2 separate regions of the Homo sapiens genome follow, and region 2 is linked to region 1. Evidence: fine-mapped expression QTL. A gene starts in region 1. The other region holds a variant in brackets. All regions are shown on one strand. Distances are between the middles of the regions.

Region 1 (8,530 bases):
CATAATCCGGCTCCGGAGTCCCCCGGAGTCCCGGGGGCTCACACTCCACCCTCAGGGAGGTCGCTGATGCCAGACCCTGGGAGCACCTCCCCGCTCCACTCGTCTGCGCTGCAGCCGGTTCCTATTTGCCCGACGCCGCGACTGCGACCCAGGCTCCCCGCCGCAGCCGTTCTTGGGGGGGCTCCCGCAACTCAGCGGGCGCGACCCCCCGCCCGCTCCCTCGCTGCTCACGCCGGGCCCCCGCTATGTGACTGGGGGCCCGACCCGCACCCATGGGGCACCGCTCCTCCCTCGGGGTCCGCGCCTGCACCCGACGCTCAAAGCCCCTCTCGGAGTCCCACGCTCGCATGCGCTGTCCCGAGCCCTCTGGGGGTCCCCTCCTCTCACCCCGCTGTCCTGGCCCCTCTCGGGGTCACCCTGCTCCCACCCGCTGTCCCGGCCTCTCTCTAGGTGTCCTGCTCTCAGCCCCGCTGTCTCAGCCCAGCCCCCTTCCGGGACCCCTCCTCTTCTCCCACTGTCTTGGCCCTTCCTGGGGTCTTCTCACACTCTGTTCTAAGCCCTCTGGGGATCCCCTGTCTTCACATCCCCTGACCGGTCCCCTCTCTTTACTCTGTCCTGGATTCTCTCTGGGTCCCCTCCCCTCACCTCGGGGTCTCCTCTCCCCGGGTGCTGTCCCAGCCCCTCTCGGGGTCCCCATCTCTCAGACTCTCAGTGCCGGCCCCTCTCGGGGACCCTTCCCCTCTCCCCGCTGTCCCTGACCTTTTCTGGGACCTGGTCCTTCAGGGGACCCCCTCCCCTCATCCCCCTATCCTAGTGCCTCATGAGGCACCCACCCCTCACCCCACTACCCCAGCCCCTCTCCGGGTCCCTTCCTCTCACGCGCACTGTCCCGGCCCCTCTTGGAGACCCCTCCCCTCAGACTTTCAGTCTTGGACCCTCTCGGAGTCCTCTCCACTCAGAGCCACTGCCTCGGTCCCTCTCGGAGTCCCCTCTCCTCACCCGCTGTCCCGGTCCCTCCCGGGGTCTCCTCTCCACAGTCTGCACTGTCGAGCCCGCTCCCGCAACTCCCCTCACTCTGCCTGGGGTCCCGCCGCCTCGGCTCCCACTGTCATGCCCCGCGCCCCGGTGCTCTCACCTCAGACCTGCTGTCACCACCCCCGGGCCCGGCGCCGCCGCCGCCGCTTCCTCTCCCACACTTGTTCCTGAGTCGCTCTCCTGTGGCTTGTTCCCCGGCGGATCCTTGGGTCCGGTCGCTGAGTGCCGGATCCGGCTGTGCGCAGCCTCTGCTCGCGGTCTCGGCGTTGCGTCCCACTCTCCACGCAGGACCCCGCCGCCCGGCGCCACAAGGACCCTCCCGCGGCCGCCGCCGCTGCTGCTGTCCGAGGTGCGGCTCCTGCCAGGGGTGGCCAATCGCACCGGACTGCGCCGAGCACGCCCCGCCCCACCGTCTCAGTCCGCCCGCCCCCTGCCCCGGACCACGCCCCAAGCTCGGCTCCAATAGGCTCTCTACTGACCTTCCCTGATCGCGGGGCACAGGGCCGGGGCCGTATATAGGTATTTGATTGATGGAGCCTGGGAAGCCGAGCGGTCGATGGAACCCGAGGATTGGCGGAGTTGTCGATGGGCGGGACAGGGCAGGGCGGGGTCTCCTCAGACGCGGAAGACCTTGCAACTTTAGTAACCTACGGGCCCGCCTGGGGTGCGGTCAGTCTTGTTTGTGCTGCTCTCCGGTCAAAGTTCATGGCGCTTCTCCCCACGCCTTTACTTTTCTTGGGAGATTCCCAGGGACCACCATGTTAGAGCCTTTGGGGAGGACCCCAGTCTCTCGCTAGACCTTGCACAGCTTTCTTAGTAATTCTGCCATGAACTAATATAGCATTAATTTGCCCAGGATTTGTAAAAATTTCCTGGATTTAAACCATTTCTTTTTAAAATCTCTTGCAAGGGAGTTGCCTCTCCTTGAATTGAGTTCAGCAGCCGTCAGTTTGATACCGTTGGGGGAAAAAAAATCTATATACAGTACTAGGTGCATACTTTGCCCAACTAAGCGTTCAATGCGGGGCACATTTTGATAGGTGCAAGGACAAAGCTTTAGAAATTTTCAGTTTGTAGGTTTTTATGACAGTAGGAAGACTGTGGTAGGGGAACCCTATTATTAGCTTAACAAGGTTTCAGCAAAGCTATTCAATATAACCTTTTTCCAGGGCCACAGGTTTTAATGATTCTATGTGAACGTGTGGCCAAAGGATAACGAGCTTTGACCCAGGTTTAACATGTGATAATCAGAGACTCCTCTTGATCCACGCTAAAGGATAGTGCCTGCCAGGGGTGAAAGTGCATCATGCTACTAAGACCCATTTGTGTTATTTTTGTGAAACTGGATATGCTGATCAAATCAACACCGGAAACAGAAAACTGCTTTCCTTACTCTTAACGCCAAAAGTAAGTTTATGGACTTTAGAATTTAGCATTTTATGAAGAAATTGTCTCAGGAACACATTTTGATCCTAAGTTTTGTCAGATGTATACAGGCCTTAGTTCTCAGAGAACCCTCGATTGTTAACTTTTTAACTCCAGCTGACAAAATGTGTTTGTGTTCTAAACAGTATACATGTTTCTTCTAGTGTTTTAAGAATCATACGCCATTCATCACCTGAGGTCAAGGGTTCCAGACCTGCCTGGCCAACATGGTGAAATCCCGTCTGTACGAAAAATACAAAAATTAGCCGGGCATGGTGGCACCCACCTGTAATCCCAGCTACTAGAAAGGCTGAGGCAGGAGAATCACTTGAACCCGGAGGCGGAGGTTGCAGTGAGTCGAGATCGCATCACTTCACTCCAGCCTGGGTGAAAGAGCAAAACTCCGTCTCAAAAAAAGAAAAAAAGAAAAAGAAAAAAAAGAATCATACTCCATTCCAATTGTGATGTCCCCCTTTAAAGTTTCAGTTTGGGTGTTAGGGTAGGCAGAGAAGGCCTGGAAGCAAAGAAGTTGTGGAAATGGGGCTGGCAGGGCTTCGTTTCAAGTCAAGTCGAGTTCCTGAGCGGTGTGGCTGAGTACCGTTTTGAGAAGGGATATATAAAAAGATTTCAAGGTGGTAAAACTTGGTTTTGAGGGAACTTGATTTTTACAGGAGTATAGCGACTGTCCAAAATCATATTAAATAAATCTAAAGGTTAGGTAAGACTAAAGCCATAAGAGAATTTTTTTGAGTAGGTCCACCTTCACTAAAGAGCATTTTTTAGTTCTGCAGCTGGCAATCTGGACAGAAAAAAATGGGGTAAGTTTTCATAACCCAAGTGCTCAGTTGTGTCTATTCATTACATATAAAAAAGAAATGCATGACCATTAACAGATGCTGTTTGCAGTCAAGAAGACAGCAGTAAAACATAAGCAGGATAAAAATCTCAGCGTCTTGAAAGGAAACCATTTAGCAACGAAATAAACTTAAAAATTAATTGTATCAATGAACTCTTGATTTCTAAAATCTTTGCTTTTTCTGCACTATGATTACTGCTACTGACAGGAACGCAAGTTACTCAATATAGTTGATTGCAAGTAATTTAGATGTTCTCCAACAGCACAAAGAAAGAAAATGACTTCATCTTTTGGACAAGAGACAGTTCTGGAATCCTAGTTTAAATATAGATGGCAGACCTACGGTGCGATCTGAGAATGATTCTTATTTAGAAGGGGCTTCAGAAGATCTCAGAACTCCTGGAAAGACATCTTAGCATTCCATTCTGGAAATTCTTTAGTTTTGTTGGGAGAAAAAATCACTTACAAATAGAGCCAAGATTTTAATTAAAACAAGGTAGTAAATAAATGTCAAAATAAGTGGGATGAGAATAACGTTTCATTTTCAGAAGAGTCCATAGGGAACAATTCAGAGATAAATTTAATCACAAAAGGTCTGAGAATGGGAATATTCGGTTCCACCCTGGTTTTCACATCTGTTCATTTTCACTACTGGTTGCGTTTCCTACGGAGACTCGGGTGGAACATAAAAGTGGGGCTACTTTGGACAAACCATTAAAAACCTTACCCTTTTTTCTCGCTACACACAACTAGACCACATTGCTCTTAGCTAAAGGGACACCTTAAATCTATTCGTTCAGCAAAACTTATAACACCGTGTTCCTTTTCTACTCAGAGGGAATCGCACAAATTAATTCTTGCAGATACTCAGCTCTCCTGTTTTTTAAGCTTCCACGTGGGCCTTAGCCAAATAACTTCTGGTAGGCAAATTCTCCCCTTCTTCAGTTGAGAGCTCAGAGCAAGCTGTTGGATTAAGCAAAAGCACCTTTTAAAAAATTAATATTCAAGGCAGCTGTACCGCGGAGGGCCTGGGTCTCGGAGTCTAAAAAATCAGACTGGACGTTACTATTTTTTTTTAGGCAAACGACAGCTCGTTTCTCATTTGTAAAACCGGGGGAACATCTTACCGAATAAACCTTACACAAACAGAAAGGATTCCTAAGGGCTGGGAAAATACTATTTTGCTGTCCCCAGGATGGAATATCAGCATCCTTGTCTTTTAGCTCTTAATAAAGCTCTAACTAGTCACAGGAGGAGCCAGGCTGCATGATCACGCACACTCTGGACGTCTAGGTTTTCCGACCTAATAAGGGGGCAGGTCGCGTCGTTCCCTGCTTAAATTAGAGACCACCTCCACCTGCCAAGGGCCCTTCAAACCCTCCGCCCCTAGGTCGCTAACGATCACCGCTTTAGTTCTAGCTCCAGGCGCCGCCTGGCGGCTGTCTCCGGAAGTCGCCTGCGAGCCTCGGGGTCCTGACCGCTGCTGGGCCTGCCCGTAGATTTGCCTGACTCTAGCGAACCTGGCTCCGCCCCTCCCCCACTATACGTTGAGGATTTTAAGACGGCGATGAAAGGGCTGAGGTTGTGGCGACGGGGGCGTCCAGCGGCATCTCCACTCCCCCAAGGATGGCGGAATCAGGCCGTTGTCGGGCAGCTCTCGACCCGGAAGTCGCTCGCGGCGCGAGGCCCCCGTTGCCGAGCGCGGGCGCGGGGGGCGGAGCTCGGCGGAGACGGGGAAGGGGTCGCCGTGGCTGCCGGTCCTCGAGTTGGGGGCTGCCGCGGACACTGCTAGGCAGACGGCGAGTACCGAGCGCGGGTGGCCGCGGTGTCCGTGGGCCACGCTCAGCTGCGGTCAGAGGCGACATGAGTGCCGCGGGGCTGCTGGCCCCGGCCCCGGCCCAGGCTGGAGCGCCGCCGGCCCCCGAGTACTACCCCGAGGAGGATGAAGAGCTGGAGAGCGCCGAGGACGACGAGCGCAGCTGTCGGGGCCGCGAGTCGGACGAAGGTGAGTCCTGCCGCTCGCCCGGCCGCCCGGAGCGGAGGTGGGACCGCTGGGGGAGGGGGTGGGGCTGTTCGGGAGAGGGGCGGGGCGGCCTCCGGGGCCTGGGGCTGCGTGGAGGGGCCGCCGGGAGTTGCGGGGCTCGGGGAAGTTACCCCCATCCGTGCTGGAGTAGCGGGGAAGCCCTGGGTGCGTTACACTCGACCGTGATGGGGAGAGGGGACTTAGATGTTGTCACGCTGGGGGTCCCTTTAAGACCCCGTCCTCCCTCCCAGCCGTTTCTGATTGAACCTCACTCACTAGTAGGAATTAGAAACTCATTTACTGAATACATCGAGTGTAGTTCGCCCCTTTTTTGTGTGTGAGAGCATCAGAGTCCAAAGTTGCCCCTCCCCACCCCCGAAATGCATAAGTCATCTATACTTTAGGTAGTACACTATTGAGAACTCAGGTTGGTTAAAGGAAAGGGACCTAGAACCAGCCAGATACAGGTTTAAATTTGGCTTTGTCACTTAACTCAGCTTTGTAAACTTAAGTTTTCCAGCCTCGATTTACCCAACTGTAATGGAGCTGTTTAATTCCCACACCTGCCCTAGAAGGCACTTCCTAGGGTCGGTATAGGGATTAAATGACATGCGCATAAAGTACTTGGCCTGGTACTGTAAATACTCCGTAAATGTTCTCCCCACCCGCCCCCCTCCCGGAAACAGGTAAGAGAGGGAGAGATTTGCTTAATGGTCCCCAGGTGTTGTGTTTTCAGTCCCACGCTCTTTGCACTGTCATCACAGAGTCTCAGAGCCTTGCTTTTCAAACTGGGCTTTATAATTTGGCAAGTGTGAGGAACGCTATTTTGGAGGGATGGAGGAGGAGGAAGGTGATGAAATGTGAGAGATCAAGGGAGGAGAAATAGGAAACAAAGAGAGACCGATATATGAGCGGAATATTCTGGGACAAAATCGGGCCGTGGAGCAAAAGCTAGACCAGCTGTTTGGAATGGGGCCTACGTTTTATTCATCTGAGTTTCCCGAGTGCCAAGTAATGTGGCTGACCATGACAGGAACTCAGGGAAGGCCTCTTGACTGAAGGAGGGGAGAAGGGTTTGTGGGGAATTGGATCTGCAACAGCCTTACAAAAGACAGCTGCATATGCATGACATACAAAGTTGAGGGACTGCATTCGATTTAATTCCATCAGAAGACACGGCTTAACCAGAGATTTTGAATGTGAAGCACTTGCACTTCATCTCATACCCACGAGGGGGCGCTGTGGAGCCAAAATTGAGTTTTTTTTTCCTTCCAGTATAGGGGCTATTAAAATTTTGTACACACCCCAGCCATTAGCTTGTTCTAAGAACAATGTTTAAGATGTTCTGAAACAGTTTTCGTTTGATCATCTGGCCTCCTCCTTGTTCCCTTTAGTTGTAACTTGGAAAATATTTATTTGTGTCAGATTCCCCTTTTTTATTGTATACAGTTGGCTCTGCGTATCTGTGGGTTCTGCATCTGTGAATTCAACCAAGCGCAGCTCAAAAATATTCAGGAAAAAAATTGGATCTGTACTGAACATGTGCAGACTTTTTTTTTGTTATTCCTAAACAGTGTAGCGTAACAACTACTTACATAGTATTTACATTTTATTGGATATTGTAAGTAATCTTTTTTTTTTTTTTTTTAAGATGGGGTCTCACTCACTCACCCAGGCTGGTGTGCAGTGTCACGATCTCAGCTCACTGCAACTTCCATCTCCTGGGTTCAAGCAGTTCTCCTGCCTCAGTCTCCGGAGTAGTTGGGATTACTGGCACCTGCCACCATGCCTGGCTAATTTTTGTGGTTTTATTTGTTGTTTTGTTTATTTTATTTTTTTTTGAGATGGAGTTTCACTCTTGTTGCCCAGGGTGGAGTGCAATGGCGCGATCTCGGCTCACCACAACCTCTGCCTCCCGAGTTCAAGCAATTCTCCTGCCTCAGCCTCCTGAGTAGCTGGGATTACAGGCATGTGCCGCCACCCCCAGCTAATTTTGTATTTTTAGTAGAGACGTGGTTTCTCCATGCTGGTCAGGCTGGTCTCGAACTCCCGACCTCAGGTGATCCACCTGCCTTTGCCTCCCAAAGTGCTGGGATTACAGGCGTGAGCCACTGCACCTGGCCCTAATTTTTGTGTTTTTAGTAGAGATGGGGTTTCACCACGTTGGCCAGGCTGGTCTGGAACTCCTGTCCTCAGGTGATTCTCCTGCTTTGGCCTTCCAAAGTGCTGGGATTACAGACATGAGCTGCCATGCCTGGCCTGGATATTCTAAGTAATCTAGAGATGATTTAAAGTGTACTGTTGGCCTGGTGCAGTGGCTCATGCCTGTAATCCCAGCACTTTGGAATGCGAAAGCAGGTGGTTCACTTGAGGCCAGGAGTTCGAGACCAGCCTGGCCAACGTGGCGAAACCTCATCTCTACTAAAAATACAAAAAGTAGCCGGGTGTGGTGGTGCACCCCTGTAATCCCAGCTATTTGGGAAGCTGAGGCAGGAGAATCGCTTGAACCCAGGAGGTGGAGGTTGCAGTGAGCCGAGATTGTGCCACTGCACTCCAGCCTGGGCGACAGAGTGAGACTGTGTCTCATTAAAAAGAAAAGTATACTGGAAGATGTGCGTAGGTTATATGCAAATACTATGCCATTTTGTCAGAGACTTGAGCAGCTGAGGATTTTGGTATCCACGGGAGGTGCAGTAACCACTCCCCCACGGATACTGAGGGACAACCGTGTATCCTGATGTAAAATGTGCGAAGGGTTCCAACTGGGTATGTATCAGAAGAGAATGTACATACTAGTTTTTTTCTGGAGCAGCGAGTAAGGCTTGACTGCCTGCAGTGTCCAGTCTTACGCCTGCATCTCCTTTCTTGAGTTGCCAGCATTGTTGTTTCTGCAGAAGTAGCAGCCTTCACCATAACTGCCTGTGCCTGAGACACCCTATTCTGTGGCTGCATTTCAGGTAAAGGCAAGCTTTTTGCATAAATCTGACTGTAAGTTGGAAATGGCCTTTTCTTTTCTGAAGTACGGCTGTCCCTCGGTATCTATGGGGGACTGGTTCCAGGACTTCATGGATACTACAACCTGAGGATACTCAAATTCTTTGCATTGGCCTTTTGTGTCCACAGGTTTCGTGTTTGCAGATAGGGATGGCCTACTAACTGTATGTAATGTTTTTCATTGATGGCTTTGTGCA
Region 2 (8,530 bases), 58 kb before region 1:
CTATTTTAAAAGAGTTAAAAGCAAACAAAATGAAATCTTTAAAAACTGAAAATTTAAAAATCATATATAAAGAGACAGCTATCCAACTAGAGATAATGCTAGATCCTAGTAGGACAGTCAGGCAAGACATTACAGAAGACAGACATTTTCAGCTCTATTACAAGGAAAGAGAATGGCTGTTTCTTTTCTTTTCTCTTCTTTTTTATTTTTTATTTTATTTTATCTTTTTTTTTGAGACCGAGTTTTTGCTCTGTTGTCCAGGCTGGAGTGCAATGGCATGATCTTGGCTCACTGCAACCTCCGCCTCCTGGGTTCAAGTGATTCTCCTGCCTCAGCCTCCCAAGTAGCTGGGATTACAGGCATCTGCCACCACACTTGGCTAATTTTTGTATTTTTAGTAGAAATGAGGTTTCACCACATTGGCCAGGCTGGTCTCAAACTCCTGACCTCAGGTGATCCACCTGTTTCAGCCTCCCAAAATGCTAAGATTACAGGCGTAGCCACCGCATAGGCTGAGAAAGGCTGTTTCTTATAACTTCAACTAAGACTGGGACCCTCTAATATTTAAAAGGGTTTTATTTTGTCAAAAGTAACCTCATGGTAAGGTTGTATCAGACACTTGAATAGTAAGCTTTTACATTACAGAAATGACTAAACTGTCCAGTAATCTAAGGCTAAAATTTAGGGAAAAGAAAATCAAATCTATATTAAAGAATAACCAGAAGAACTTCTTATGTAAAAATCAAACTGGAATAAGTAATTATGGATTTATCTTACTTGGCGACTGAGTCAAAGAAGTTAATTTATCCTCATTGCCATTAAAGTTGTCTTTGCTCTTTTGCACAGTATAGTATTTCTCAAATTGTTCTCCTTGCCATGCCTCTAATCCTGCCTGCCTTTCTCTGGAAGTAATATAATGCAAGAGCCCACTAGTGAAGAGAAAGCCTAAGAAGGAAGTTTTAGGCCCTTCCAAGCCCACAAAATGCAAACCTTTTAACAGTGACATTTTAATTTCCATCACAGTACACACTACCTATGTATCTTCTAGAACAGTAACTGCATATTTGCCTAGGATTTCCTGAAATTAACGTTACAGGAAGCCTCCAACTTGCAAAAGAGTTGGGTCCCAAAAGTTCACTTCTAAGCTAAGTATCTGTAACTCTGAATATGTTTTTACCCAAAATCAATGTTTCATATGGAATTTAGGTTTTCAGGTTTGTCCACAAAGGGTTTGTCCCTAAAGCAAATTCAATATCTTATTTTGCATTTTAAAATATCTTTTAAAAATACTATTGAGATACAACTAATTATGCAAATCAAAAAATATTGAGTAATAACTCTAAAACAATATCGTGAATTAAGATGGAGTGCATAAAAATGACATGGTAAATGGAGACTTGAGGATATCCTGAACTTAACTTTTGGATTACTTGAGGATTTTGGGAACTAGTGACATTAGTTCTTTATTAGATCTAATGTGATTTTAAAATGTATGACTCTTATTTCTCTTGAAATACAATAAATCATTAGCACTAAAACCACAGAACATCCAAGGTTGGAAAAGACTTCAGAGATCATATTCAATCTGACCTTAATTTGGAGATGGAGAAATTGAGACTCATATGGATGGACTAACCTGACATAAGTTATCCAACTAATTAGTTCCGGAGCTGATATCCCATCCTGTATCTTTTCCACCATAACAATGCTTATCAATTATTATCAAGACCAGGTTTTTGCTCAGAATAAGGTGAAAAAAATTACTACAACCATTTTATCAGCATAATTTAGCACTATCTAGTGAAGTTGAAGATGCGCATGACTATTGCATGGGCACATGAAGGAGTTTTTGTTTCTTTTTCTTTTTCTTTTTTTTTTTTAAGATGTAGTCTCACTCTATGGCCCCGGCTGGAGTGAGTGCGTGCAGTGGCAAGATCTAAGCTGGCTGCAACCTCCGCCTCCCACATACAAGCAATTCTCCTGTCTCAGCCTCCCGACTAGCTGGGATTACAGGCATGTGCCACCACCCCTGGCTAACTTTTATACTTTTAGTAGAGATGGGGTTTCACCATGTTGGTCATGGTGAACTCCTGACCTCAAGTGATCTGCCCGCCTTGGACTCCCAAAGTGCTGGGATTACAGGCGTGAGCCACCACACCCAGCAGAAAATTTTTCATAATGGTAAAAAATGAGTAATGTATTAAACATCCATCGGTGGGGAAAAGGATAACTGATATAATCATGTGATGTAATGCCATGTTGTAGTTTAAATCAATGAGCTAAATATAAATTTATCAATATAGACACATTTCCAAAACACAATAAAGGAAAAACCAAGTTGAAGAATCATATGCAGGATATATTCAAATTTATGCAAATGTTAAAACCCACAAAAATGTATTGTTTGTAGCACACATAAATAAGAGTACAAATGGTAAAAAGAATAATATGCACCACCTTCAGGAGAGTAGATGGATTTGGGGTGGATGGAAAAGAATGGAATTGGAAAGAAGTACAAAGGAGACTCCAAATATATGTTTTTATTTCTTTAAAAAATTAATTCTGAGAGATAGGATCATGGATATTGGTTATATTCTGCAAGTTTGAAATATTTTGTTAACATTTTTAAAAAGAAAATAATCCTCCTCCCCCCAAAAAGGAAAATCTAAAAATGAAAGTGATAGGATTGAATAATTATTTGAAGTAATTATGACAGTGTTGGGAAAGAGGGAATACATATATGCACATGAGAGAAAAAAATTGGTTAGGGTAAAAGGAGGCAAATGCAAGTATAAATGACAAAGGAAAATTGAAACAGATAGTAAATAAAGGAGACTGTGAATTTTGGATCAGATAGTTTTCCAGGCTCACTGTGAGGTAATGGTATGGACTCAAGACAGCTTGGTTGCTGCTGGGATATTTTTACAATGGAAAAAGGAGTAGGGAGGTTATTAGGAGGTACTGATGCCAAGATCCCAAGGGGAATGTAATGAGACATCATGCACATGTGACTTAGAGACTGCCTCTAATTATTTGATTTCTTACATCTCCCTTCAATTTATTCCTAATAATGGGTGTTTCTGCCTTCTTAAATAAATTTATGTGCAGTGTCTGGTTTAAAAATGTTCAAGAAAAGGAATCTAAAAAATGGCCTAATGATCATGGATTTGTTAATGTAAATCTTACCTTTTAACTTCCCTTTAACTGCAGCATACCTGCTACTCATAAGAGTCTGGTTAAATATACTAGCTTACATACTGTCCTACTGAAAGAGCTCCTACTCATTTGGCATACATTATTTTCTTTGGTCTGATTCATAAAAGATAGGATGGTAAAAAAATATTTTGCCTCAAGGACATCATTTTTTTTTTACTCTCTCTTAGAGGTGGGGTCTCGCTCTGTCATCCAGGCTGGAGTGCAGTTGTGCAATCTCGGATCACTGCAGCATCCTACCCTCAGCCTCCTGAGTAGCTGGGAACACAGTCGTGTACCACCCTGCCTGGCTAGATTCTCTCTCTTTTTTTTTTTGATTGTTAATAAAGACAAGCTCTTACAATTTTGTCCAGGCTGGTCTTGAACTTCTGGCTCAAGCAATCCTCCTGGTTCGGCCTCCCAAAGTGCCAGGATTACAGGCATGAGCCATCGTGGCTGGCCAATGACATGATCTTATATCCAGAAAACCCTAAATAACTCACATCTACAAACTACTAGAGCTATTAAATAAATTTAGCAAAGTTCCAGGGTATAAAAATAACAAAATCAGTTGTATTTCTATATACTGGCAATGAACAATCTGAAAAGGAAATTAAGAAAACAATCTATAATAAGAGCAAAAAGAATACTTCAATTATTCCTCCTTGGAATAAATTTAACCAAGGAAGCATAAAAACATGAACAATGAAAACTACAAAACATTGCTGGGGCTGGGCACGGTGGCTCACGCCTGTAATCTCAGCATTTGGGAGGCCAAGGTGGGTGGATTGCTTGAGCTCAGGAGTTCGAGACCAGCCTGGCCAACATGGCGAAGCCCCGTCTCTATTAAAAATACAAAAATTAGCTGGGTGTGGTGGTGCACGCCTGTAACTCCAGCTACTTGGGAGGCTGAGGCAGGAGAATTGCTCGAAACTGTGAGGCAGAAGTTGCAGTGAGCCGAGATTATTGTGCCACTACACTCTGGCCTGGGCAACGAAGTGAAAGTTTGTCTCAAAAAAAAAAAAAAAAAAAAATCGCTGGGAGA[A/AT]TTTTTTTTTTTTTTTTTTTTTAGACAGTCTTGCTCTGTTGCCCAGGCTGGAGTGCAGTGGCGCGATCTTGGCTCACTACAAGCTCCGCCTTCTGGGTTCACGCCATTCTCCTGCCTCAGCCTCCAGAGTAGCTGGGACTACAGGCGCCTGCCACCACGCCAAGCTAATTTTTTGTATTTTTAGTAGAGACGGGTTTCACCGTGTTAGCCAGGATGGTCTCGATCTCCTGACCTCGTGATCCACCTGCCTCGGCCTCCCAAAGTGCTAGGATTACAGGTGTGGGATTACTGCACCCAGCCAGAAATTTTTAAAGACCTAAATAAATAGAAAGACATTATGTGTTCAGGAGCTAGAAAACTTAATATTGTCAAGGTGACAATATGACTCCAAACAATATACAGATCCAATACAATTTGTATCAAAATCCCAATGGTGTTTTGTACAGAAATGGAAAAACCTGTCCTAAAATCCATATGATTTCAAAGGACCCAGAATAGCAAAAATAATCTAAAAAAGACAAACAAACAAAAAAAACAAAAACCAGTTGGAGGACTCACATTTCCTGCAGCTTATTACAAAGCTCAGTAATCAAAACACTGCAGTACTGGCCTAAGGACAGACATATATAGACCAATGGAATAGAACTGACAGCCCAGAAATAAACATTCATATCTACAGCAAATTGATTTTCAACAAGGGTGCCAAGACAACAGGGAAAGGTCAGTCTTTTCACCAAATGGTACTGGGATAACTGGATATCCATAGGCCAAAAAAATGAAGTTGGGCCCTTACTTTATACTATATACAAACAATAACTCAGAATAGATCCGAGACCTAAATAAGATATAAAGCTATAAAACTTTTTTTTTTTTTTTTTTTAGATGGAGTCTTGCTCTGTCACCAGGCTGGAGCGCAATGACGCGATCTTGGCTCACTGCAACCTCCGCCTCCTGGGTTCAAGCGATTCTCCTGCCTTAGCCTCCCAAGTAGCTGGGACTACAGGAACGCACCACCACGCCCAGCTAATTTTTGTATTTTTAGTAAAGACAGGGTTTCACCATGTTGGCCAGGATGGTCTCGATTTCTAGACCTCGTGATCTGCCTGCCTCAGCCTCCCAAAGTGCTGGGATTACAGGTGTGAGCCGCTGCGCCTGGCCACAACTCTTAAATATAGGGACAAATCTGCATGACCATGGATTTGGCAATGATTTCTTAATTAAAACCACAAGGAGCTACCACCTCACACCTGTAAGAATAGTTTTTAGCAAAAAGACAAAAGACTGAGTGTTGGTGAGCATGTAGAGAAAAGGGAACCCTTGTACACTGTTAGTGGGAATGTAAATTAGCACAGTGATTATGGAAAGCAGTATGGAGGTTTCTCAAAAAATTAAAATTAGAACTACGATATGACCTGGCAATCCCACTAATGATACACATCCAAAGGAAATGAAATGAATATGTGAAAGAGATATGTACTTTTCATGTTCATTGCAACATTATTCACAACAGCTAAGATAAGGAATCAACCCAAGTGTCCGTCAGTGGGTGAATGGAAAATGTGGCATGTGTACACAATGGAATACTATTCAGCCTTCAAAAAGAAGGAAATCCTGTCATTTGCAACAACATGGATGAACATAGAGAACATTACACTCAATGAAATAAGGCAGGCACAGAAAGACAGAAGTTGTATGATCTCATTTATGTGTGGTATCTGAAAAAAAACAGAACTCAGAAGCAGAGAATACAATGGTGCTTTCCAGGGGCTGGAGAGGTGAGGAATTGGAGAAATATTGGTCAGAAGATACAAATTATCAGCTGAAATCTGGTGATGGATATGTTATCTAGCTTGATGTATTCATTCTACAATGTATGCATATATCAAAACATCACATTGTATACCATAAATATAATTTTTCATTTGTCAATTATAAAATAAATATTTTAAAAGCAAAAAACCCCTCAACAATAAAATGACACCAAAAGCTTTTACAGGAAACAAAAGAAAAATAAATTGGACTTTACTAAAATTCAGAACTTATGTGTATCAAAGGACGCTATCAAGAGTGACAGAGAAAATATTTGCAAATCATAAACCTGATAAGAATTTAGATAATCTAAAATTGTTTTATTAGAAACCTGATAATAATCTACAACATATAAAGAACTGCTATAACTTAACAACAAAAAGACAAACGACCCAATTTTGAAATGAGAACTAGAAAACTTAATATTGTCAAGGACTTGAATAGCCATTTACTCAAAGAAGATGTACAAATGGCCAATAAACACATGAAAAAATGCTTATCATTAATTATTAGGGAAATGCAAAACCACGATGAGATATTATTTTATACTCATTAAGATGATTATAATTAAAAAAAAACCAGAAAACAACAAGTGTTGGTGAGGATGTGAAGACACTGGAACCCTTTCGCACACTGCTGGTGGGAATATAAAATGATGCAGCCTCTATGGAAAACAGTTGAACAGCTCCTCAAAAAGTTATACATAGAATTACCATGACTCAGCAACTCTACTCCCAGTTATATACCCCAAAGAATTGAAAAGAGGGACTCAAACAGATACTTGTATGCCAATGTTCATACCAGCATTATTCACAATAGCCAAAAGGTGGAAACAACGTGAAGTGTCCATCAGCAGACAGATACACAGATGAACAAAATGTGGGATATAGATACAGCAAAATATTACTTAGCCATAAAAAGGAATGAAGTACTGATAGATGTTACAGCATGGATGAACCATTGTGCTAAGTGAAAAAAGCCAGACAAAAAAGGACAAATATTATATGATTCCACTTGTATGAAATATTTAGAATAGGCAAAATTCATACAGACAGAAAAATAGATAAGGGCCTAGGCAGAGAGGGGGAAATGGGGAGTAAGTGCTTAATAGGTACAGAATTTCTGCTTGGGATGATGAAAAAGTTCTGGAAATAGATAGTGATGTTCCCATAATTATTTCCTTATGACAAGTTTCTACGAGTAGCCGGGTATGGTGGCTCTTGCCTGTAACTCTAGCACTTTGGGAGGCTGAGTTGGGAGGATCGCTTGAGCCCCAGGTATTTGAGACAAGCCTGGACAACGTAGCAAGACATCATTTCTTAAAAAAAAAAAGTATATAATAAGATACTGAACAATAATATACTTGATTATCAACACATCTCTGGGTAATCTGCTGAAAGCCCAAGGCAAATAAGTGTATCAGTTTATAGCCACTGCTAACATTTTACAAACAAAATAATTAGTAATAGTTATGATTGATTGGACACATACTGGCCAGTCACACTAGACTATAAGCTATTGAGACCAGGGCTATTTTATTATTAAAGAAACAAAAAACAAAAAGGACTTCCAGTTAGCACACTGCTTTATACAACTGCTTAAACAATGCTGTTTAAACTAAAAGAGACTTTACACTGCTAGAAGTTTGTGAAAAAAGAGGGTCCCCAAGCTGAATATTTTAGAGTCAGAGTAGAATAATTGAAAATGAATCACACTGCTATTTATAATGATAATTACAGCATGGTTTGTAATAGAAAACATTTGGAAACAACCCAAATGCCCATCAAAAAGGAATTGGTACAATTACACACTTTACTAATGTGTAGCTAATATAACAAGAAGCAGATCTATAGGAAGGAAGTCCTACTAAAGTACTGTTAAGTAACACGTAATGTGCATACGTATATGCATAATGTGTTACATTTTAAAATAATGTTAATAATATAAACAACATTAAAAAAGATCATGGAAAAAATCTAGAAGAATATGCCCAAACTGCTTATAGTGGCTATATGTTAGGGAAAAGGTTGGTATGGTTTGTAACTTTTATATTTGTTTGGGGGCATCTATTTTCTAAGTTGTATATTACTATATTGTTTAACACTGTTGTTTAACATGTATACATGCAAATACACACACACACACACAAACATACACACACACATTTTTTTTCAGACAGGGTCTCACTCTGTCGCCGAAGCTGGAGTGCAGTGGCACAATCACGGCTCACTGCAACCTCGACCTGCCAGGCTCAAGCTATCCTCCCACCTCAGCCCTCTAAGAAGCTGGGGCTACTGGTGCACGCCACCACATCTGGCTAGTTTTCATATTTTTTGTAGAATGGAGTTTTGCCATGTTGCCCAGGCTGGTCTTGAACTACTGGGCTCAAGCAATCCTCCTACCTCGGTTTCCCAAAGTGCTGGGATTACAGCCACCACGCCTGGCTGCAAGTATGTTTTTCATAAAAAAGTTCAAACAAGAAAA

Evidence for each region. PIP is the estimated chance that this variant, and not a neighbour inherited with it, causes the effect.
Region 2: its variant is fine-mapped to the expression of SUDS3 in regulatory T cells (Bossini-Castillo 2019, PIP 0.95).

What each region holds. Positions count from the first base shown.
Region 1 is chr12:118,371,513-118,380,042 of GRCh38, forward strand. SUDS3 (SIN3A corepressor complex component SDS3) reads left to right here and starts at 5,043. Exons shown (of 12, transcript NM_022491.3): 1 at 5,043-5,321. The coding sequence starts at 5,180. TAOK3 (TAO kinase 3) reads right to left here and starts at 1,395. Exons shown (of 21, transcript NM_016281.4): 1 at 1,136-1,395. LOC124903031 (a long non-coding RNA gene) reads right to left here and starts at 4,615. Exons shown (of 2, transcript XR_007063480.1): 1 at 4,444-4,615; 2 at 3,786-4,279. RefSeq lists silencers at 235-324, 425-484, 1,269-1,518, 5,040-5,259, 5,290-5,439 and enhancers at 1,839-1,888, 5,098-5,598.
Region 2 is chr12:118,313,061-118,321,590 of GRCh38, forward strand. All of the region lies in intron 1 of TAOK3 (TAO kinase 3), which reads right to left. Among named protein-coding and RNA genes, the nearest start is that of TAOK3, 56 kb to the right of the region's middle. The variant A/AT (reference allele first, on the strand shown) is at 4,238.